3 separate regions of the Homo sapiens genome follow, and regions 1 and 2 are each linked to region 3. Evidence: fine-mapped expression QTL. A gene starts in region 3. Each other region holds a variant in brackets. All regions are shown on one strand. Distances are between the middles of the regions.

The links.
Region 1: its variant is fine-mapped to the expression of SLC1A7 in tibial nerve (GTEx, PIP above 0.99). The same link has a PIP of 0.9 or more in breast, esophagus mucosa, sigmoid colon, subcutaneous fat, sun-exposed skin and testis.
Region 2: its variant is fine-mapped to the expression of SLC1A7 in tibial nerve (GTEx, PIP above 0.99). The same link has a PIP of 0.9 or more in testis.

What each region holds. Positions count from the first base shown.
Region 1 is chr1:53,086,417-53,090,644 of GRCh38, reverse strand. It overlaps SLC1A7 (solute carrier family 1 member 7), which reads left to right. Exons shown (of 11, transcript NM_006671.6): 8 at 1-33; 9 at 711-845; 10 at 1,666-1,768; 11 at 2,418-3,462. The coding sequence ends at 2,636. Among named protein-coding and RNA genes, the nearest start is that of PODN, 26 kb to the right of the region's middle. The variant C/T (reference allele first, on the strand shown) is at 2,012.
Region 2 is chr1:53,092,647-53,096,646 of GRCh38, reverse strand. It overlaps SLC1A7 (solute carrier family 1 member 7), which reads left to right. Exons shown (of 11, transcript NM_006671.6): 6 at 3,087-3,186; 7 at 3,860-4,000. Among named protein-coding and RNA genes, the nearest start is that of PODN, 32 kb to the right of the region's middle. RefSeq lists an enhancer at 1,224-1,761. The variant A/G (reference allele first, on the strand shown) is at 2,018.
Region 3 is chr1:53,140,632-53,144,879 of GRCh38, reverse strand. It overlaps SLC1A7 (solute carrier family 1 member 7), which reads left to right and starts at 2,242. Exons shown (of 11, transcript NM_006671.6): 1 at 2,242-2,565. The coding sequence starts at 2,431.

The DNA.
Region 1 (4,228 bases), 54 kb after region 3:
CGAGCTGGACTTTGGCCAGATCATCACCATCAGGTGCACCCTGACACTGCACCTGGGTGGATGGGGCGGGGGCTGGGGGCCTTGGGGATTCCCAGGCTCCCAGACTTGAGGGGTATCTGAAGCGAGCGAGCCTGGGCTCGGAGCACAGCAGGCAGAGGGCCAGGGCTGGGAGCTCCGAGCCTGGAGGACAGCCCGGGAGGGAGGGCATTGCTGGTGGCCACAGGGCGAGCGGAGGCCAGGGACAGGACTCAGGACCTTGGAGAGGCCGCCCGTGTGGCAGGAGCCAACGAAGGGGTGCTGGGATGCGGCTGAGGCTGACGGAGGCCTCACAGCCCAGCCAAGCACACAGGTCTGACCCTGGAGGCCAGGCCCCAGAGGCAGGCAGGCAGAGCCATGTGGTGGTCAGTCAGAGTCCCTGGGCAGCCCCATAGCAATATAGCTTCCTGGAACCCACAGAGGCACAGCTCCAGACACAGGTGTTTGCACAGTTCCCAGGGATTCTCCTGAGGCCAGGAATGGGGGTCCATGGGGCTTCAGGACTGTGAGGAGGGACTTGACCCCGAGAGCTCCCTGGTGTGGCATTCCTACCCACCCCCCGCACCAAATGGCTGTCCCAGAGGCCCTGACACTCAACCTCTTCCTTGGAGCCAGACCCTGACAATGCACCCTGCCCCTCCTGCTGCTCCTCTTCCCCTTCCCACCCCCTGCAGTATCACAGCCACTGCAGCCAGCATTGGGGCAGCTGGCATCCCCCAGGCCGGCCTCGTCACCATGGTCATCGTGCTCACCTCCGTGGGACTGCCCACCGATGACATCACCCTCATCATTGCCGTTGACTGGGCTCTGTGAGTGGACTTTGCCTCTAGCTCTAGCCCTCTGGGAGGGGCTGACTTCAGGGTCAGCAGGGATCAGGGTGAGCGGCTGAGTCCCTTCCCCAGGGTAGAAGGCTGGGGACTGCCCCGCTTGGCACTGTGGGAGTGCCCTACTCATTAGCACAGGCCTGGCTGCATAATTTGTGGGGTCCAGTGTTCAAAAATGAAAATGTGGAACCCAGTCCAAAAACTGTAAAGGCCAGGCATGATGACTCACGCCTATATGTCCCAGAACTTTGAGAGGCCATGGCAGGAGCATTCCTTGAGCCCAGGAATTCCAGAGCCCAGCCTGGGCAACACAGTAAAATCCCCATCTCTACTAAAAATTAGAAAAGAAAAAATTAGCTGGGACTGGTGACATGTGCCTGTAATCCCAGCTATTCAGGTGGCTGAGGCACGAGAATTACCTGAACCTGGGAGATGGAGGTTTCAGTAAGCCGAGATGGCGCCACTGCACTCCAGCCTGAGTGACAGAGCAAGACTCTGTCTCAAAAAACAAACAAACAAACAAACAAAAAACAAACCTATAAAGAATTTCAAGACAGAAACAGCAGAGGATTAAACCAAACCTAACCCTTCTAAGCATGGGGACCTGTGGAACCCACAGCTGCATGCCAAGAAGCTGCTTCAATGATGCCAAAGGGTGGGCTTGGGAGGAGCCAGGAAGCCATCTGGCTGCAGGCTTTGCATGACAGCTGGTCACCGGCCGTGCTGTACTGTGCTGGGTTGAGCACTGCCCTCTTCCAGCTCCCCTTCAAGTGCCCACCACTCACCCCCAACCTTGGCTCACCAGGGACCGTTTCCGCACCATGATTAACGTGCTGGGTGATGCGCTGGCAGCGGGGATCATGGCCCATATATGTCGGAAGGATTTTGCCCGGGACACAGGCACCGAGGTGAGAGCAGTGAGATCCAGAGGCTGCCAGGAGGGTGGAGCCACGCAGGGTGGGCAGGGCACCAGATCTTCCACCAACCAGCTCGGCAGCCTCCAGCCAATCCCTCCCTCCATGCCTCTGGGCCTCGGTCTCCTCATCCGTTACAGAATGACTGATTCCTCTAACATCTATTTATTGAGCACCCGCTGTGGCTGGCGCTGATATAGACACAGGAGGAACAGTAGAACAAGATATGATAAAATT[C/T]CCCGCCCTCGTGTCGGGATGGTCTGTCCAGTTTAGCCAACATGTGAGCATTTGTAGGTCTGTGCAGGCTGTGTGGGCTTCAGGCTCCTTCTACAGGCAAATGGAGAAGGCTGTCCCCACATCATGGGGAAGAAGCTGAGGTCAGGCAGGGGATCCACCAATTCCCCAGATGGACCCTGTGGATTAAGTCCCCTCCTCTACTAAGCCAGCTCCAGTGGGAGGCAGGACGCTTGGGAACAGGAGCCCAGGGAGGCCGTGACCTGCCGAGGTCACACAGCGTGTCTGCAGGAAAATCCATCTTGTGGTTCCTAGCCCTGAGCTCATTCTGCCCCACTGGCCCTCAGTCCTCCCTCGTATCTAACCTTGGTCCCTCCTGCTGCTACAAAGACCTGTTTCCCTTCACCAGAAACTGCTGCCCTGCGAGACCAAGCCAGTGAGCCTCCAGGAGATCGTGGCAGCCCAGCAGAATGGCTGTGTGAAGAGTGTAGCCGAGGCCTCCGAGCTCACCCTGGGCCCCACCTGCCCCCACCACGTCCCCGTTCAAGTGGAGCAGGATGAGGAGCTGCCCGCTGCGAGTCTGAACCACTGCACCATCCAGATCAGTGAGCTGGAGACCAATGTCTGAGCCTGCGGAGCTGCAGGGGCAGGCGAGGCCTCCAGGGGCAGGGTCCTGAGGCAGGAACTCGACTCTCCAACCCTCCTGAGCAGCCGGCAGGGGCCAGGATCACACATTCTTCTCACCCTTGAGAGGCTGGAATTAACCCCGCTTGACGGAAAATGTATCTCAGAGAAGGGAAAGGCTGCATGGGGGAGCCCCATCTAGGGAGTGATGGGCCCGGCATTGCCTGAGGCCCCGCTGTGACAGTTTCCCCGGTGTGAGCCCGGTGAGGGCGGCAGGCAGGGGTTATCCGGCCCCACTTTCTGGATGACAGACTTGAGGCTCTGAGAGCTGAAAACACTTGTCCAAGGTCTCACGTTAAGGTCAAGACACTAACTCAAATCTTTCAAGCCCCGCCTCTCCTCTTGGAGGACAGGGCAGCCTGCAGCTGTGTCCAGGCCCAGGCCCCACCCCATAACAGGTGGCCTCAGCCACACAGTTCTCCCCAAGGGGAGCAGCCCAGGGCCAAGCCCCGCTGCCTTCCCCAGGCCACAGTGCGTCCAGTCTCCTGTCCTGCCACGTGTCTTTTGCAAAGCTCCTTGGATGTGGAGACAGATGTCTTTACTAGAGCTGAAAGGCCCCCTTGACACATCCAGGCCAACCTCCCATGGAATAGGTAGGCAAGCCAGGACTCCGGGAAGGAGGTGCAGCCAGGATGCTCTGGTGGAGCTGCCGATGGGGCCCTGGTGTCAGAACTCCCCAAAGGCCTGTGCGTCCAAGTGGAGTCAGGTTTTCTATTCCTTTCTGTGTTTGCAAATTCAGTGTTAACTAAATAAAGGTATTTTGTTTTTCACTTCTTGTGGGCTTCAACACCTTATGCTAGCCAGCAAATATGATATTAGCTACTGGGCTAATTAATACAGGCGGCCAGAGTGCAGACGGGCCTGTCTGGGCAGCCAGGATATGGGCGGGCCTATGCAGGTGGCCAGAATCTAACAGGCTTGTCCATTTGGCTGGAGTGTAGACAGGTCTGTCTAGGCTGCCAGTGTGTGGACAGGCCTGTATGGGCAGCCAGAGTGCAGAGAAGCCTGTCCTGGTGGCTGCAGTAAGGACAGTCCTATCTGAGCTGTCACATGCAGAAGACAGAGTATAAGCTAGCCTACCCAGGAGCCTGTCTCAATAACCACAGGGCAGCTGGGCATCGTCCAGTGTGGACAGACCTCTCTGCCATGGTCTAGGCTCTGCTCTGCAGGCAGGGCCTTGAGATCAGTCCCCAAAGAAGAAACAGATTTCCTTCCCAGTCTGGCTCCCCGTGGTGAATGCTTTGCTTTAGACAGGGGCGTGCCCAGGGACATTTCCAGATGGTCTCCCTCATTCTCACACCCCAGGCTGCCTCCAGGAGGCCTGCAGGGCACACAGAAGGGCCCTGGCAACACAGCCTGTTCCAGATATGCCTTGGGGAGAAGATACAGCTCTGGGGTCTGGAGGGGCTTGCACCATGATGCCCTTGAAGACACTAAGGCCCAGGGAGGGGACAGGCCTCCCCCAGGTCACTCAGCGTCAAGAGGGCACCTGCTCCCACTGCCCCATTCCTGAACTCCTTCCACCCTCCTCCCAGG
Region 2 (4,000 bases), 48 kb after region 3:
TGTACCGAAGTGGTATGTGTACTGAAGTGGTGTGTAAGTTTACCAAGGCAGGGTGTGTGAGTGTATCGAAGTGGAGTGTGTGAGTGTACTGAGGCATGGGGTGTGAGTGTACTGAGCTGGGGTTTATGTGCGTGTGAGTGTACCGAGGTGGAGTGTGTGAGTGTGCTAAGGTGGGGTGTGTAATTGTAATGAAGCAAGGTGTGTGAGTGTACCGAGGCAGGGTGTGTGAGTGTACCGAGGCGAGGCGTGTGAGTGTACCTAGGCGGGATGTGTGAGTGTACCAAGGTGGTGTGAGTGTACTGAGACAGGGTGTGTGAGTGTACCAAGATGGGGTGAGTTTACCGAGACAGTGTGAGTGTACCGAGTCGGTGTGTGTGAGTGTACAGATGCATGGTTTGAGTGTACCAAGGCAGGGTGTGTGAGTGTATCGAGGCTAGGCGCGTGAAAGTAACAACGTGGGGCATGTGGGTGTACCGAGGTGGTGTGTGTGAGTGTACCAAGGCGGGGTGAATGTACTGAGGTGGGGTGTGTGAGTGTAATGAGGTGGGGGGGTGTGAGCATACCAAGGCAGTGTGAGTGTACTGAGGCAGTTGAGTGTACCGAGGCGAGTTGTGTGAGTGTACTGAGGTGGAGTGAGTGTACTGAGGCGGGGTGTGTGTGTACCAAGGTGGTGTGTGTGAATGCACCGAGGTGGTGTGACTGTACCAAGGCAGTTTGTGTGAGTGTACCGAGGCGGGTTGTGTGAGTGTACCGAGGCGATGTGAATGTACCAAGGTGGTGTGAGTGTACTGAGGTGGTGTGTGTGAGTGTACCGAGGCAGTGTGTGTGAGTGTACCAAGTCGGGGTGAATGTACCGAGGTGGGGTGTGTGAGTGTAACAAGGTGGAGTGAGTGTACCGAGGCAGTTGAGTGTACCGAGGCAAGTTGTGTGTGTGTACCGAGGCAGGGTGTGTGAGTGTATTGAGCTGGGGTGTGTGAGTGTACCTAGGCAGGTTGTGTGAGTGTACTGAGGCGGGTTTAAGTGTACCAAGGCAGTGTGTGTGTAACGAGGCGGGGTGTGTGAGTGTATCGAGGCAGGGTGAGTGTACCAAGGCGAGTTGAGTGTACCGAGGCGGTGTGAGTGTAACGAGGCAGAGTGTGTGAGTGTACCGAGGCGGTGTGAATGTACTGAGGCAAGGTGTGTGAGTGTACCAAGGCGGGGTGTGTGAGTGTACCAAGGCAGGGTGTGTGAGTGTACCAAGGCAGGGTGTGGCTTACTGTGTATGCTCATGCCTTTATGTGCCCACATCTGCCAGTGCCTGTGTCTGTGTGCACGTGCATCTCTGTGTCCCTGCATCAGTGTGTGCCTGGCCTCTCCGTGCCTGTGTCTGTGTGCACCTGTGTCCCTGTGTTCCCCCATCAGCATGCGCCTGGCTTACCTGTGCCTGTGTCTATGTGCACCTGCGTCTGTGTGTGCTCATGCCTGCGTGTGCCCACATCTGCCTGTGCTCATGTCTGGGTGCAGCTGCATTCCTGTGTCCCCGCATCAGCGTGTGCCTGGTCTTTCCGTGCCTGTGTCTGTGTGCACCTGCTTCTGTGTGTGCCTGTGCCTGTCAGTGTCCACATCTGCCGGTGCCTGTGCCTGTTGGTGCAGATACCAGTGTCTGCCCGCGTGTGTGAGTGAGCACACTAGCACAGCGGCTCCGAGCAGGGCTTTCTTTGGTTCCCTCAACCCAGCCTCCTTTCCCCACCCCATCCCTGGGATGTGGCTGGTGCTAAGGTCCTGCTGGCCCTGCCGTGAGGGAGCCCCCGTGCCACACTAGGGTTCCATGCACACTGGCTCCCAGCAGCCAGTCCTCGGATGCCCCTGGGAAAATCCAAATGGGCCTGAGGAGGGGCAGGAAGCCCGTGCGTGGTGGTGGTGGAGCCCGGGGAGGGCGGAGCCGGCAGGGGAGTCTGGGTCTGCATCAGCCAGGCGGCAGGAAGACAGGCGGGCGGGGTAGGCCCAGGGTCACCTCCAACTCCAGCCTCTCCTACCC[A/G]CCCTGGCAGGGCCCTCACCTCACTCCGTCACCACGGGGTAGCTGCTCCATGGACTGTGTGGCTCAGGCTTCTCAGGACAGGGAAAGAGCCCTTCTCTGGTGTCCCACAGGCCAGGGTTTGAATCCCACCCTGCCTCCCTAGCTGAGCCCCAGCACCATGACAGTGGGCCTCATGAGGGCAGCTGTAGAGAGTGCTCTGCTCCCCACGTCGGTCTCACCAGGAGGTAGGGCAGCCACTCAGTCCCTGTTTCAGGACTGGCCTGACAGAGCTCACCCCACGGAGCCGTTCCCACACCACCCTTTCCTGGTGTGTGCGAGCTGGGGAGGAAGGCCTAGAATGCCGGGGGAGGCGCCAGGAGCATCAGGAAAGGCCCTAGTCCTCACTCACCATTGACCACTGTGCGTCTAACATGCTCCAGCTAAGGAGATGCAGTTCTTGCTCTCGCTGAGCTAACCTCGCAGAGGAGACGGGAAAAAACCCAGACAGTTATGTTGTAATAGGCCCTAAGAGGTGAGATATTGAAGAATAAATGGGAGTTTGCAAAGGGGATCGGGGATGGCTTCCAAGCTGTTTGGAGAGCGGGCAGCCAGTGCCTGGGGCACTGTGTAAACGGCTTGCGCAAAGGCCCTGAGGCAGTGAAGAGCTGGACTCCCTCCTTCCAGAAACTTAAAGAAGGCCAGTGGTGCCAGGGCACAGTGAGATGGGCAGGAGCAGGAGGGAGAGGCAGGCAGGGCCCACTCGAGTGGGGCTGAGGCATCGAGCTGGGTGAGGCAGCGGGGAGCTTGTCATGGCCTAAGCGCACAGCGAAGCCAGGGGTGCACTTGGCAGGGAGCACTTTTATCCTGAGGAGGTGACATTGGCTGCTGCGTGGAGGAAGGTGAGAGAGGAGGACGTGAGAGCACTGTGGGATCGGTAGTAGAGTGGAGGAGGAGAGAGGGAGAGAGAGAGTGGGGGGAGTGGGGGGAGTGCTGGAGCATCAAGGCTGCTGGGAAGCCAGCCATGCTGAGACCCATGTGGGCCTGTGGGTCTGTCCCTGCTTTACCACAGCACTGTGTCCCTGACCCGCAGGCATCATGCTGGGCCGCATGGGTGACAGCGGGGCCCCCCTGGTCAGCTTCTGCCAGTGCCTCAATGAGTCGGTCATGAAGATCGTGGCGGTGGCTGTGTGGTAAGCCTCCTCATTTACCCACCTCACCCCGGCCAGCCCTGGGTGGATGGAGGGAAGACAAGACCCCACCCTCTTCTCCCGTAAAGTGAGCAGAAAGCTGTGCCCAGGCTCAGCCCTGGGCCGGGGCCTCCGGAGCTACATGTGTTTCCATGGGTCCCCCAGCCCCAGCCAGGCCTGGCTCCGGCCCTGGGCCTGCCCCTTCCAGCCTGGTCTAAGAGCTCTGCCCGGCTCTGCTGCTCTCCTGGGCTCAGTTTCTCCATCACATGGAGCCTTATCAGCTCAGCTTTTGGAGAAAGGAAAGCTGGCGGTAAGGACTAGCCCACAGTTCAGAGTCCTCGGCCCACAGTTCAGAGTCCAGGAGCTCAGTGGGGAACGCAGAGGGAGGGCTGCCCAGGCGCACTGTGTAGACTCTGGCGTTGTTGGGCCTGAAATGGGGGCCTCCTGAAGGCAGGGCGGGGGAAGGAGTGGCAGAGGTTGTCTGGAGCTGGGGCGGTGGAAGTAACGGTATGAAGGACGCCATGTGCTGAGCCTGGGCCGGGCACCTTGGCAGTCTCGCTCTGTCCTCGCAGGAGCCCCAGGAAGCTCAGGGGGAAGGCCGCGCAGCGATGCGGGGCTGGGGCCGGGGTGTGTCTGCCTGCCTGGTTCCTGAGCCTGGCTGCCCCGCCGCCCCCAGGTATTTCCCCTTCGGCATTGTGTTCCTCATTGCGGGTAAGATCCTGGAGATGGACGACCCCAGGGCCGTCGGCAAGAAGCTGGGCTTCTACTCAGTCACCGTGGTGTGCGGGCTGGTGCTCCACGGGCTCTTTATCCTGCC
Region 3 (4,248 bases):
TTCCTTTTGATGTAATTATGGAAAAATTGTCTTGCACATCTAGTGACATTGTAAAAGGCAGTTGATTCTTTGTCAATGGTGAACTATTATAGGGTTCTGACCCAGGAGACTTGATTTGATTTGCAAATATTCTTAGTAAACTCATTATCAGTCACTTACACTTTAGTGTGAATTAGTCCGTTCTTGGGGTCTCTCCACTTTCTTATAAGCTTCCTGAAGGCAGGGCAGGTACTGTCTGATTCACTGTTGTGTTTCTAGTACCCAGGGGGTGTGGCACACTAAATGGTGCTATAAGAACATTTGCTAGAGTGAGTTGAAATTCTCCTGTTGAAGACCGTAGGAACAGTGGAAAGAATGGCTGTAGTCTGGTAGGCAGGTAGTGGTAGGCTCAGCCTGTGGGAGAGAGGAGTCAGTGGTGGCTATAGGGCACGTCCTGGGAATGGGAGTCATGGAGCTGTGGTAGAAAGCAAGACTCACCTATATCATGGCACAGCTAAAGGCCAGGTCTGGGCTGGGTGTGGTGGCTCATGCCTGCAGTCCCAACACGTTAGGAGGCCAAGATGGGAGGATTGTTTGAGCCCAGGAGTTGATCAAAACCCAAATCCAAATACCTACTTAGCATATTTTCTCTTCTGGGAAGTAACTAACCACCTGATTATTTGGAAAATGAGGCATTTGTTGGAGTTGAAGGTGTAGCAAGAAACTTTTGGTTTTAAGAGTCAAAGTCAGAGGAAAAAAAACTCTCAGACTTGTATTCACCCCCACCCCCCACCCCAAGCTACTGCAAAGAGCAGGGGCTTTGGAAGATTGGTTTGTTGAAATGAAGTTCCTTTGACAAAGGTACCTGGGCCCATTTCTCTCATTCTAAAAAGGACAAGACTGATACCCAGAGACGGCAAGGTCACAGAGCTGATTAAATTGGGATCAGAATCTTCTCAGTCAGGAGCTCTGTCCATGGCTTCAGAGCCTGTGCCCCAGTCCCCTCTCCCCACCTCTCCCCTATGCCCCACTTGGCCCGTCCTCTTCATCCTCTGCCCCTGTCTCCTATGTCAGGAGGAGGAAGCCCCTGTGTGCACCCCACCCTTTACCTCCCACCCTCACTGCAGACTGCACTTCCCATTCCCTGCTGCCTGCTGCCTGACTGCTCCTAATGAGATTACAGATCTCTGGTGAAATAGACGAGGGTTAATTCCCCCAGGCTTTACAGGGCAGGGCAGGCCAGGCCACAAGAAATAGCAAAAAGACACCTATTCTCCAAAGCACTAAGTGTGATAATGACCCTAAGAGTCCGTTCCCCTGTTCAGCACACCAGGGTTCACACTGCGTTTCCAAATACCCTCTGGGTGGAATTTTGTACCAGCCCTAACAAAGTAGATGCTGTTATCATCTCTATTTTACAGATGGAGAAACTGAGGCACAGTGAGATGAAATGCTTGTCTGAGGTCACACAGCTAGTAAGTGGCAGAGCTGGGACCCGAATGTGGGTCTCTTGGGCTCTGTCATCTTTAAAAAATAATAGGCCCAGAGAGCCTGCAGGGTGCCCAGCACCAGGCTTGAAACAGCCCTGAAGCATCTACGTCCCATTTCCCGGTGAGTGGCACAGCCCACCTTTGAACTCAGGTCCCCTGGACTCGAATCTACATTCCCCACAATACTGCCAAGCACCCTTGAACCTATCTGCCTGTTCATGTGGTGGAAACAGACTGGCCTAGCCCTGACTTCTGACCTCTGTGACCATGGCCAAGGGACTGGCTTCTGGGGTCTCAGCCTCCCTTTCTGAAAAATGAAGGTGGGAACCCTGGGATCTTTGGGACAATTCCCTATGATTGGCATAGCTAAGGCAGCCAGCACAGGCCTGGCCCGCAGCACATGCACCCACCCACCTCAGTTTCTTTATCTGTAAAATGGTGATATTAATAGTACTTATTTCTTGGGATTGGTGTTAGGATTAAATATGCCAGTACATGTAACACTCTTCTAGAATGGCACCTGGTGCATAGTAAATGCTTAATTAATGTTGAGGGAAACTGATATCTTACTGTCTTGTTTTTGATTCTTTCTGGAAGGAAGCAGGGGTAAAGATCAAACCAACCAAGCAAATGTTCCTCTTGTTCCTTCCAGTACCTGGTCCACTCAACTGTTTAAGAGGAACGCTTGGCTTTGAGGCCTGAACTCCTAGACCACGTGGTCTGCTCTAATTTCCCAGGCCCTAATCTGCTCCCAGCTCCTAATGATGCAGCTGGTAATAGGATTGTGGCTTCCCTCTAAGGCGGCCACACGGGCATGGCCGTGGGGCTGGCGACTGGTGTTTAGCAACTCCGACCACCTGCCTGCTGAGGGGCTAGAGCCCTCAGCCCAGACCCTGTGCCCCCGGCCGGGCTCTCATGCGTGGAATGGTGCTGTGCCCCTTGCCAGCAGGCCAGGCTCACCATGGTGCCGCATGCCATCTTGGCACGGGGGAGGGACGTGTGCAGGCGGAATGGACTCCTCATCCTGTCTGTGCTGTCTGTCATCGTGGGCTGCCTCCTCGGCTTCTTCTTGAGGACCCGGCGCCTCTCACCACAGGTCAGCCACCCAGAGCATCTCGGGACCCCTGTCCAGGAGGGGCGTGTGGGCCTGAGGGATCTGGGGTCCCGTTCTAGCATCACAGCTCCCTGGTGCCATGACAGTGTGTGAATCCCTCTGCCTCTCTGGGTCCTGGTTTTCTCATCTGTAACATGGGTGTGATAAACACTTTGCAGGACTAGAGGGAAGAACCAGTGATGTGGCTGGGGAGTGATTACAAACCCAGCACCATCAGGTGAGGAGAGGCGAGGGTGCCTCATGATGACAAACACAGGGCCAAGAGCTGTGGCGGGGAAAGAGGGGGGTCTTGTGTGAGTTCAAACAGGCACCAGAGAACACCTCCTAAAGGCTGCTCAAATGACAAGAGATCCAGGAAGCGTGCTCTAGGCAGAGGTGACAGCAGATGCCAGGTGCAGCGGCCGGAGCGCAGAGGCCAGCAGGCCCATAGGTCCCATCGCCACACGTGGGCTTGCGGCAACCATGAGATGCTTTTGGGCAGAAGAGCGACAGGCCAGTTTGGAGCTTGGGAGACCCCTCAGGTGCTGAGTGGAGAGGGGGTGATTCTGGGGCAGGCAGGGGGCCGAGAAGGGGCAGCCTGGGGGAGATGCGGCAGTGCAGACAAAAGGGACAGACGTGAGAACTGTTTTCAAAAGGGGGAGCTTCAGGATGTGGGGGCCGATTGGATGTGGGCTGGGGGACAGGAAGGGGAGCCAGGCCCCGGGTTTCCAGCCTGTGTAACTGCCATGAAGAAGCTGCGTTTCCTGGGAAAGAGCCCCTTTCCCTGTCAGCCCCCATCTCCTACAGGAGAGGGAGGGACATTCCCATGGTGTTAAGGACAAAATCATTCTGCCACTAGTTAAACTGGTAAGGAAGGCTCTATTCAGGACTATTGTGGTAGGGGGGTAGTTATCAAGACCTCCTGGGGAGAGAGATGGGACCCAACCACAAATACAACAAAGATGGCTGGAGATTTATAGCCAGCGAGCAGAGGGAGGGGGTCGGGGACAGAAAATGACTACAGGAGACATCAGGGTAGGGGGATTCTTGTTGAAGGCAGGCCAGGGTGATCAGACATTGATCTGGGATGAGGAATTTGATCCAGTATCAGGATGCTGGAGGGTGAGGGATCCTCACTAAACTGACTTGGCAGGACTTTTGCTACAGCTGGACTATGCAGGCTGAAGACAAGGCCCAAGGACAAAGCCCAGTGGAAAAGAGGGCTCAGAGGAGCCTGTCTAAAGTGTGGTCAAGGAGAGAGGCTTTGTCAATGGGCTCCTGGAAGAGTCCCTATTCCCAGAAAGTCCTCTTCCCGCAGCTCACTAATGTCTAATGCCATCTCTACAACTGGGGTCAGGCATTAGACTTTGTCTTCCATTAAAAGGAAAACACCCACTCCTGGAGAACTGAGCCACGACTATAGTGACCCTGTTAAGCCTCGAGCAGTTATTTAGGAAGAAGCATGGACTCTGGAGGCAGAGAAACCCTGAACTTTGACTCTGCTAGCAAATGGCTAGGCAATATCCTCTCTCCTCCCTGGGCCTCAGTTTCCTTGTCTGTAAAATGGGATGTGGGGCAGTATATGTCTACTAGAATTATTATGAGGAATAAACCAAGGATTCATCAATGCCCAGCATACAGTAGGTGCTTACTACGTGTTACTTCCCCCTCCCTCCCTTATGTACC